Linked DNA regions of Homo sapiens. The protein of the gene in region 2 interacts with the protein of the main gene of each other region in a biochemical or structural test. Each region holds a gene or a part of one and is shown on either strand. Other genes may lie near its edges.

The links. The genes of interacting proteins can lie anywhere in the genome.
Region 1: the proteins of FBXO22 (region 2) and SRR form a complex in vitro, tested with the Homo sapiens proteins (one study listed by BioGRID).

Annotation. Positions count from the first base shown.
Region 1 is NC_000017.11:2,307,593-2,311,343, reverse strand, and holds part of SRR (serine racemase), read right to left. Parts: exon of another isoform or gene 1,354-3,751; intron 1-1,353. UniProt on the Homo sapiens protein: Catalyzes the synthesis of D-serine from L-serine. D-serine is a key coagonist with glutamate at NMDA receptors. Has dehydratase activity towards both L-serine and D-serine.
Region 2 is NC_000015.10:75,913,835-75,917,585, reverse strand, and holds part of FBXO22 (F-box only protein 22), read right to left. Parts: intron 3,477-3,751; coding exon 3,381-3,476; intron 357-3,380; coding exon 192-356; intron 1-191. UniProt on the Homo sapiens protein: Substrate-recognition component of the SCF (SKP1-CUL1-F-box protein)-type E3 ubiquitin ligase complex that is implicated in the control of various cellular processes such as cell cycle control, transcriptional regulation, DNA damage repair, and apoptosis.

The DNA.
Region 1 (3,751 bases), on a different chromosome or scaffold from region 2:
ATATTTTTTAATGTCAATTATGCCCCCTCGGCTGGGCACAGTGGCAGGAGGATTGCTTAAACCCAGGAGTTCAAGGCTGCAGTGAGTTATTGTACCACTGCAAGAGCAAGACCCTGTCTCTTAAAAACAAAAAAACAAGAGAACAAAAAATAGTTGGCTGGGCGTGGTGGCTCTTGCCTGTAATCCCAGCACTTTTGGAGGCCAAAGCAAGTGGATCACTTGAGATCAGGAGTTCAGGAGTTTGAGACCAGACTGACTAACATAGTAAAATCCCGTCTCCATTAAAAAAACAAAAATTGGCCGGGCGTGGTGGGTCACGCCTGTAATCCCAGCACTTTGGGAGGCTGAGGTGGGAAGATCACAAGGTCAGGAGATCGAGACCATCCTGGCTAACATGGTGAAACCCTGTCTCTACTAAAAATACAAAAAATTAGCCGGGCATGGTGGCGGGCACCTGTAGTCCCAGCTACTCGGGAGGCTGAGGCAGGAGAATGGCATGAACCCGGGAGGCGGAGTTTGCAGTGAGCCAAGATCATGCCACTGCACTCCAGCCTGGGTGACAGAGCAAGACTCTGTCTCAAACAAACAAACAAAAAAATTAGCCAGGAGTAGTGGCATTTGCCTGTAGTCCCAGCTACTAGGGAGGCTGAGGCAGAAAAATCGCTTGAACCTGGAAGGCAAAGGTTGCAGTAAGCCGAGAATGTTCCACTGCACTCCAGCCTGGGCGACAGAGTGAGACTCTGTCTCAAAAAAAAAACAACAACCAAAAATCCCAAAAAACCATGCCAGGCCTGAAGTCTCAATATTTTTATGAATAAATGTCAATTATGCCCCCTTGGCAGGATGCAGTGGCTCATACCTGTAATCCCAGCACTTTAGGTGGGCGGACTGCTTGAGCTCAGGAATTTAAGACCAGCCTGGGCAACACGTTGAAACCCTATCTCTACCAAAAATACAAAAATTAGCCGTGCAGGTGGCAGGCGCCTGTAGTGGTAATTCTACAGTAAACAGTATGGTGCTTCCTCAAAAAATTGAACATAGAATCATCCTATGATCTACCGATTCCATTCCTACATGTAGACCCTGTCTCTCAACAACAAAACCCAGAATACAAAAAACCCACTATCAAAAATAAGATATATTTTGGAGGTTGTAAACAGTTAGTCCTCTTAGTTGCAAGTGATAGAACCTCAATTTGTACTACCTTAGTAGGCACAAGGTGGAGGTGTTGAGATTTACTAGCTCATGGAATCCATGAAGAAATGAACAAACCATGGTAAGGGGAGGAATATGGAGCTTCAGGAACTACTGGAACCAGAGATTTGACAGCTTCCCAGACTCTTAGTCTCTCACCTCTGCTGCTTTCTGCACGTCGGCTTCTTTTTCACACAGGCGAGTTGGTTCCATATGGAACCAACTGACACGTGGCTGCTGACAGCTCGTATGTTTTACATTTTATGGCTTCCACACTGAAGGGGAATTTTCTTTCTCAGTTTCAGTTAAAAAAATTCTGGGTAAGGACTCTGGCCCATCTTGGCCCAGGACCAGTGGCCAGGGTATGAGGTCACTGAAGATAACAGTGTGCAATAGTCAGAAGTATTTACATAAACATGAAAAAGAAACAGAATGAGATCTGTAACACAGTATCAATTAGGTACATTTAAAACACATACATACATAAAACATTACATATTATTCAAAGATACATGTATATTCAAAGACATATATCAAACACATTAGAGTGAATACCTAAGGAGGGAGGAAAGGAACATTAGTGGGAACTGGAATGAAGAGAAAAGATAAAATGAGAAAGGGCTTGTTAATGACAGTGTGAATAAACGAGTATGACTGGCTCAATTCTCTGCACCTGAGGGGAAAATAGCAAAATAAAGGAGTGACACAGGAAAGAAAACAAAGAAAAGAAAAAAGTACTTTTGAGTGGGAGTAAGGGGCATTTTCCAAGTGAAAATAAAGGGGAGAATGCTGGGGAGATGATTCCATACATGTTCATTATAGGAACAGAAGAGACATATCCTGATAGTGGATTGAATGGGGGAGAGAAGTGTGAAGAATAAATCCTGGGCCAGGCCTGGTGGCTCACACCTGTAATCCCAACACTTTGGAAGGCCAAGGTGGGAAGATTGCCAGAGGCAAGGAGTTTGAGACCAGCCTGGGCAACACAGGGAAACCCTGCCTCTACAAATTATTATTATTATTATTATTTTGAGATGGAGTTTCGCTCTTGTTGCCCAGGCTGGAGTGCAATGGGGCAATCTCAGCTCACTGCAACCTCCGCCTCCCGGATTCAAGCGATTCTCCTGCCTCAGCCTCCCAAGTAGCTGGGATTACAGGCATGTAGCACCACACCTGGCTAATGTTTTGTATTTAGTAGGGACAGGGTTTCACCATGTTGGTCAGGCTGGTCTCGAACTCCTGACCTCAGATGATCCACCTGCCTCAGCCTCCCAAAGTGCTGGGATTACAGGTATGAGCCACCACACCCGGCCAATATTTTTATTTTTTTGAGATGGAGTCTCACTCTGTCACCAGGCTGGAGTGCAGTGGTGCGATCTTGGCTCACTGCAACCTCTGCCTCTTGGGTTCAAGTGATTCTCCTACCTCAGCCTCCCAAGTAGCTGAGATTACAGGAGCGTGCCACCATGCCCAGCTAATTGGCCAGGATAGTCTTGATCTCTTGACCTTGTGATCCACCCACCTCGGCCTCCCAAAGTACTGGGATTACAGGTGTGAGCCACCGTGCCCAGCCAAAAATTTTTCTTTAAAAAGAGTAACTCCTGGGTTTTGACTTAAATGGTGGTACAATTTGTTGAGATTTAAAACAGGAGAAGAAATAAGTATTTGACAGGAAAATCAGATTTGATTAGCTAAGTTTGAATTGTTTATGAAACATCCAAGAGGATGTCCCTTTTTTAAAAATTATTTTTTGCCAGAAATGTGTGTATATTAGTATCTGCTTTATTTCTGAAGAATGAGCTTTTCAATCTATTTAAAGTACAGCTCTTTTTCCCTTATTTCTGATTGTTTACTCTGCCATTTTCCTTTAATTGTCTTCTATATTTGTTGAATGCTTAGCTTACTAATTTTCACTTTAAAAAGAAAGCATATAAGGTTACTTATAGGATTTTTCCTCTGAGAAGTGCTTTAATATCATGGATTCCATTATGCAATATTTTCATTATTATAATTTCTAAATAATCCAAGATTTTAGTCTTGTTTTCTTTTTTGACCCATGAATTATTTAAAATTGGTGGTTTTTTTGTTGTTTTTTTTTTTTAAAAAGACATTTATTCAGTGTCACGATCAGACTATTACATTTAGCAATCAACAGCTTGGGTGCAAAAAAAAAAAATACATTAAAACCCTTTGTTGGAATGCTTTACACTTTCCACAGAACAGAAACTAAAACAACCTGTTATACAACTAGTCACAAATACAGTCTTCGAGTTTTTTGCCCATACACATGAGTATTTGTCTAAAACATATCTTCTTTGTAGCAGCTAGGCCCTGCCACCACTGTGCTTGGCTTAGTTCACAAATCTGTTGTAACCTGTAGCTTCCCTGTCACTTCGCTGGCTCTCCTCTCATGCTAAGCTTTGTTGCCTAATTAAAATCTTCCGCCACTGCCATAGCTACTGCTGCTACTGGAACCGCCATAGCCACCTTGGTTTCGTGGTTTGGTAAAGTATTGGCCTGCACCACCATAGGGGCCAGAGCTTCTGCCTCCAAAGTT
Region 2 (3,751 bases):
TCAATTCTACCAAACATGTATCACACTGGCCTCTGTGAATCACCTGTTTGAATTAGCCACATCTCCAGTGACAGGTGTACTTAATTCAGATTCTCCCAAAGGAACCTAATATCCACCAACTAGCCAGAATTAAAAAGAAAACAAAATTAATCAATAAAATGAGCAGTTAATGATAAATAAAAGTAACTTACCTACTTCAGTGAGTTGATGTCTTTCTAATGTTAAATTCTTTGGATCCTTAATAAAATGAAAGGGTTGTATTTTTATTCCTTCAATTTGAGGGAATAATAAAGCAAAACCAGATTCTCCAATTTCTATTTCCTGAGGTCGATTGCTACCTGATCCCATTGGAGTCACTAGAGAAAAAGTTAAACAGTTTCACCAATAGAGTCAGTAAAAACTAGATAACTACAGTTTAGGTCACTAAGATAATCATTAAGCTAACAAGCCACTATCTGAGTAAAAGTTTTTCAGCTTTGACAGTTTTAGGGTGTAGTGTCATGATGTTTGCCATTTAACTTTCAAATGGTTCAGAAAGAAATTTTTTATAAGCAAAGTGAGAAAAAATAAATGTTGCAAAATTTTTTCAACTGCTAAACTAGATAAAGGGTATATGGGTATTTATCATGCTGTTCTATTATTCTTTCAACTTCTCCATATTTTTCAAATTAAAAAGTTGGGGGGGTAGTAAATACACTTTCACAGCAATTCCAATTTTTAAAAGTTTACCCTAAAAATATTTGACAATTATATAAAGTATATATATACCCAAGTATTTTATCACATAATTTCAAATAGAAAATAAAAAGAAAAAACCTGAATGTCCCACACTGGTATTCAGATTAAAAGTTACATTGGTATCATAGAATATAGCCATTAAAATGATGACAAATATATATTTATAGACATGGAAATATGTTTGTAATATGCTCTGAATTTTACAGGTAGATATTACAGATTGAACTGTGTCATTCCCTCCCTACTGCCTACCCCAAATTCATGTTTAAGCCCTAACCCCCCATGTGACTATATTTGGAGATAAGGCCTTTAAAGAGATAGTTAAGATTAAATGAGGTCACAAGGGTAGGACCCTAATCCAACAGGACTAGTGTCCTGAGAAGAGGAGGAAGAGACACCAAGCATGCTTATGTATGAAGAAAAGGCCACATGAGAACACAGTGAGAGAGCAGCTGTAAGTAAGCTTCAGAGAGACCATCCCCGATCTTGGACTTCTAGCCTCCCAAACTGTGAGAAAATAAGCTTCCGTTGTTTAAGTCACCCAGTCTGTGGTATTTTGTTATGGTAGCCCTAGTAGACTAACACAGTAGGTTACAAGTCTACAGAAAATTGTATTCTGGTTTTTTATATTTACATACATATATAAATAGAGGTTAACATCATAAGAGTGGTTAACTCTGTGGTGCTTAAAGGTGCTTTTGCTTATCTGAATCTTCTAATTTTTTTTTTCTAAAAATAACTATTACTAGTATAAAAAAAGAAATAAACTTTTTTTTTTTTTTTTTTTTTTTTGGAGACAGAGTCTTACTCTGTCACCCAGGCTGGAGCGAAGTGGTGCAACCTCTGCCTCCCGGTTTCCAGCAATTCTCCTGCCTCAGCCTCCCAAGTAGCTGGAATTACAGGCATGAGCCACCATGCCCAGCTAATTTTAGCTTTTTTTTTTTTTTTGAGACAGAGTCTTGCTCTATCATCCAGGATGGAGTGCAATGGCGTGATCTCGGCTCACTGCAACCTCTGCCTCCCGGGCTCAAGCAATTCTCCTGCCTTAGCCTCCTGAGCAGCTGGGATTACAGGTGCCCGCCATCATGCCTGGCTAATTTTTGTATTTTTAGTAGAGATGGGGTTTCACCACGTCGGCCAGGCTGCTCTTGAACTCCTGACCTCATGATCCACCCACCTCGGCCTCCCAAAGTGCTGGGACCACAGACGTGAGCCACTGCGCCTGGCCAATTTTTACATTTTTTAGTAGAGATGGGGTTTTGCCATGTTGGCCAGGCTGGTCTCCAACTCCTGACTTCAAGTGATCCGCCTGCCTCGGCCTCCTAAAGTGCTGGGATTACAGGTGTCAGCCACCACGCCAGGCCAAAAAGAAATAAACTCTTTTTTTTAAAAAAATGTTAAGCCCTTTAGAAACCACAGCTAGAGCAACTGAACAAATAATATTCATTTGTAAACATGTAAAATTCTTTTTACCTCACTGTATAAGACTCAAATTCAGATCAAAAATCTTTCAGTGAAGATTAAAAATGACAATTCTCAGTAGAGTACTACTGAGTTGGAACAAAAAAACATAACAGCAGCCAGGTGCAGTGGCTCATGCCTGTAATCCCAGCACTTTGGGAGGCTGAGGCGGTGGATCACCTGAGGTCAGGAATTTGAGACCAGCCTGGCCAACATGGTGAAACCCGGTTTCTACTAAAAATACAAAAATTAGCCAGGTGTGGTGGTGGCGGGCGCCTGTGATCCCAGCTACTTGGGAGGCTGAGGCAGGAGAATTGCTTGAATCCAGGAGGCAGAAGTCGCAGTGAGTAGAGATCACGCCATTGCACTCCAACCTTGGTGACAAGAGTGAAACTCCATCTCAAAAACAATACATAAATGACAGCTAACATTTACTTACTGCTTTGTGTATCTCTATTGTAAATGCTTTACAAGTGTTAACTCATTTAATTCTCACAACCCTCCAAGGAAGGTACTACTGTCATCATCCCCACTTCCTTGATGAGGACAGTGAAGCCCCATGAAGTTAGGTAACTTGCTCAAAGTCATACAGATACTAAGCGGTACAGCCGGCATTCGAATCCAGGTATCTAACCATTGCACCATTACTGCCTCAACAGAATCTCTCCTCCCCCAGTTAACTACAGAAAAGAATCAAAAATAATAAAAACCAGCAAAAATTCACCAGCAGCAATCAAGCATGGAAAGGGGCACAACCTCATGCTGTAAACATTGAAGAGTGGTACCAAAGCAGAGAAACAGAAGTCTCCTAGTAAGGCCCAGCTTTGCTCCTAATCCCAGCCCCATCTCACCCCTACCCACCAAACACAATACTGCTTGAACTGACAAAACTCTGAAAATGCCCACAAATACTTCCTAATTTGGAGGAAGGCAGAATGAGATCATTCCCCTCTTATGAATGACTACTGGATATTTATACAGGTAACCTTGAGATGAGAAGTACAATAACTTAATAAACATTAATATAAGGCAAATATAATGCCATGGTAAATATGACTGACTTTATTGTATTTTAGATGGACAGAAATAGAAATGTGGTTCTAAGCTAAAAATAACTCACCAATCCAAAGGACCCCACATTAATGCAAGGAAGAAATCATCAAGTTGCTAATTTATCTCACCTACAATTCCTGGGGTCACAATCCCAAGGACTTGGCATTGTTTGGGGAATAGCTTCTCAAGGGCAAGTGCTGTTTCCATACTAGTTCTTTTCCTTGCTGTAAAAATACAGTAGCAAAATGATAAATATCATCCATTTAAAGTCAAATCTGAGAATGAAAAAGTAAAAAAGCAAATACTGGAAATATTTAAGTCATTTAACACGAGAATGCTCTAAATAAAGGTCTAAAAGCATTGATTAAAACAAACACTTTACCTGTTTTGGTCCTGGCTTTTAAATTATAAATCTGATCTTTTGCACCACTAGTCTGCCTTTCCCCTCTGTTCATATATTGCTTTTGCCCCAGTGATGTCAAATTTAGCAGTAACAGCT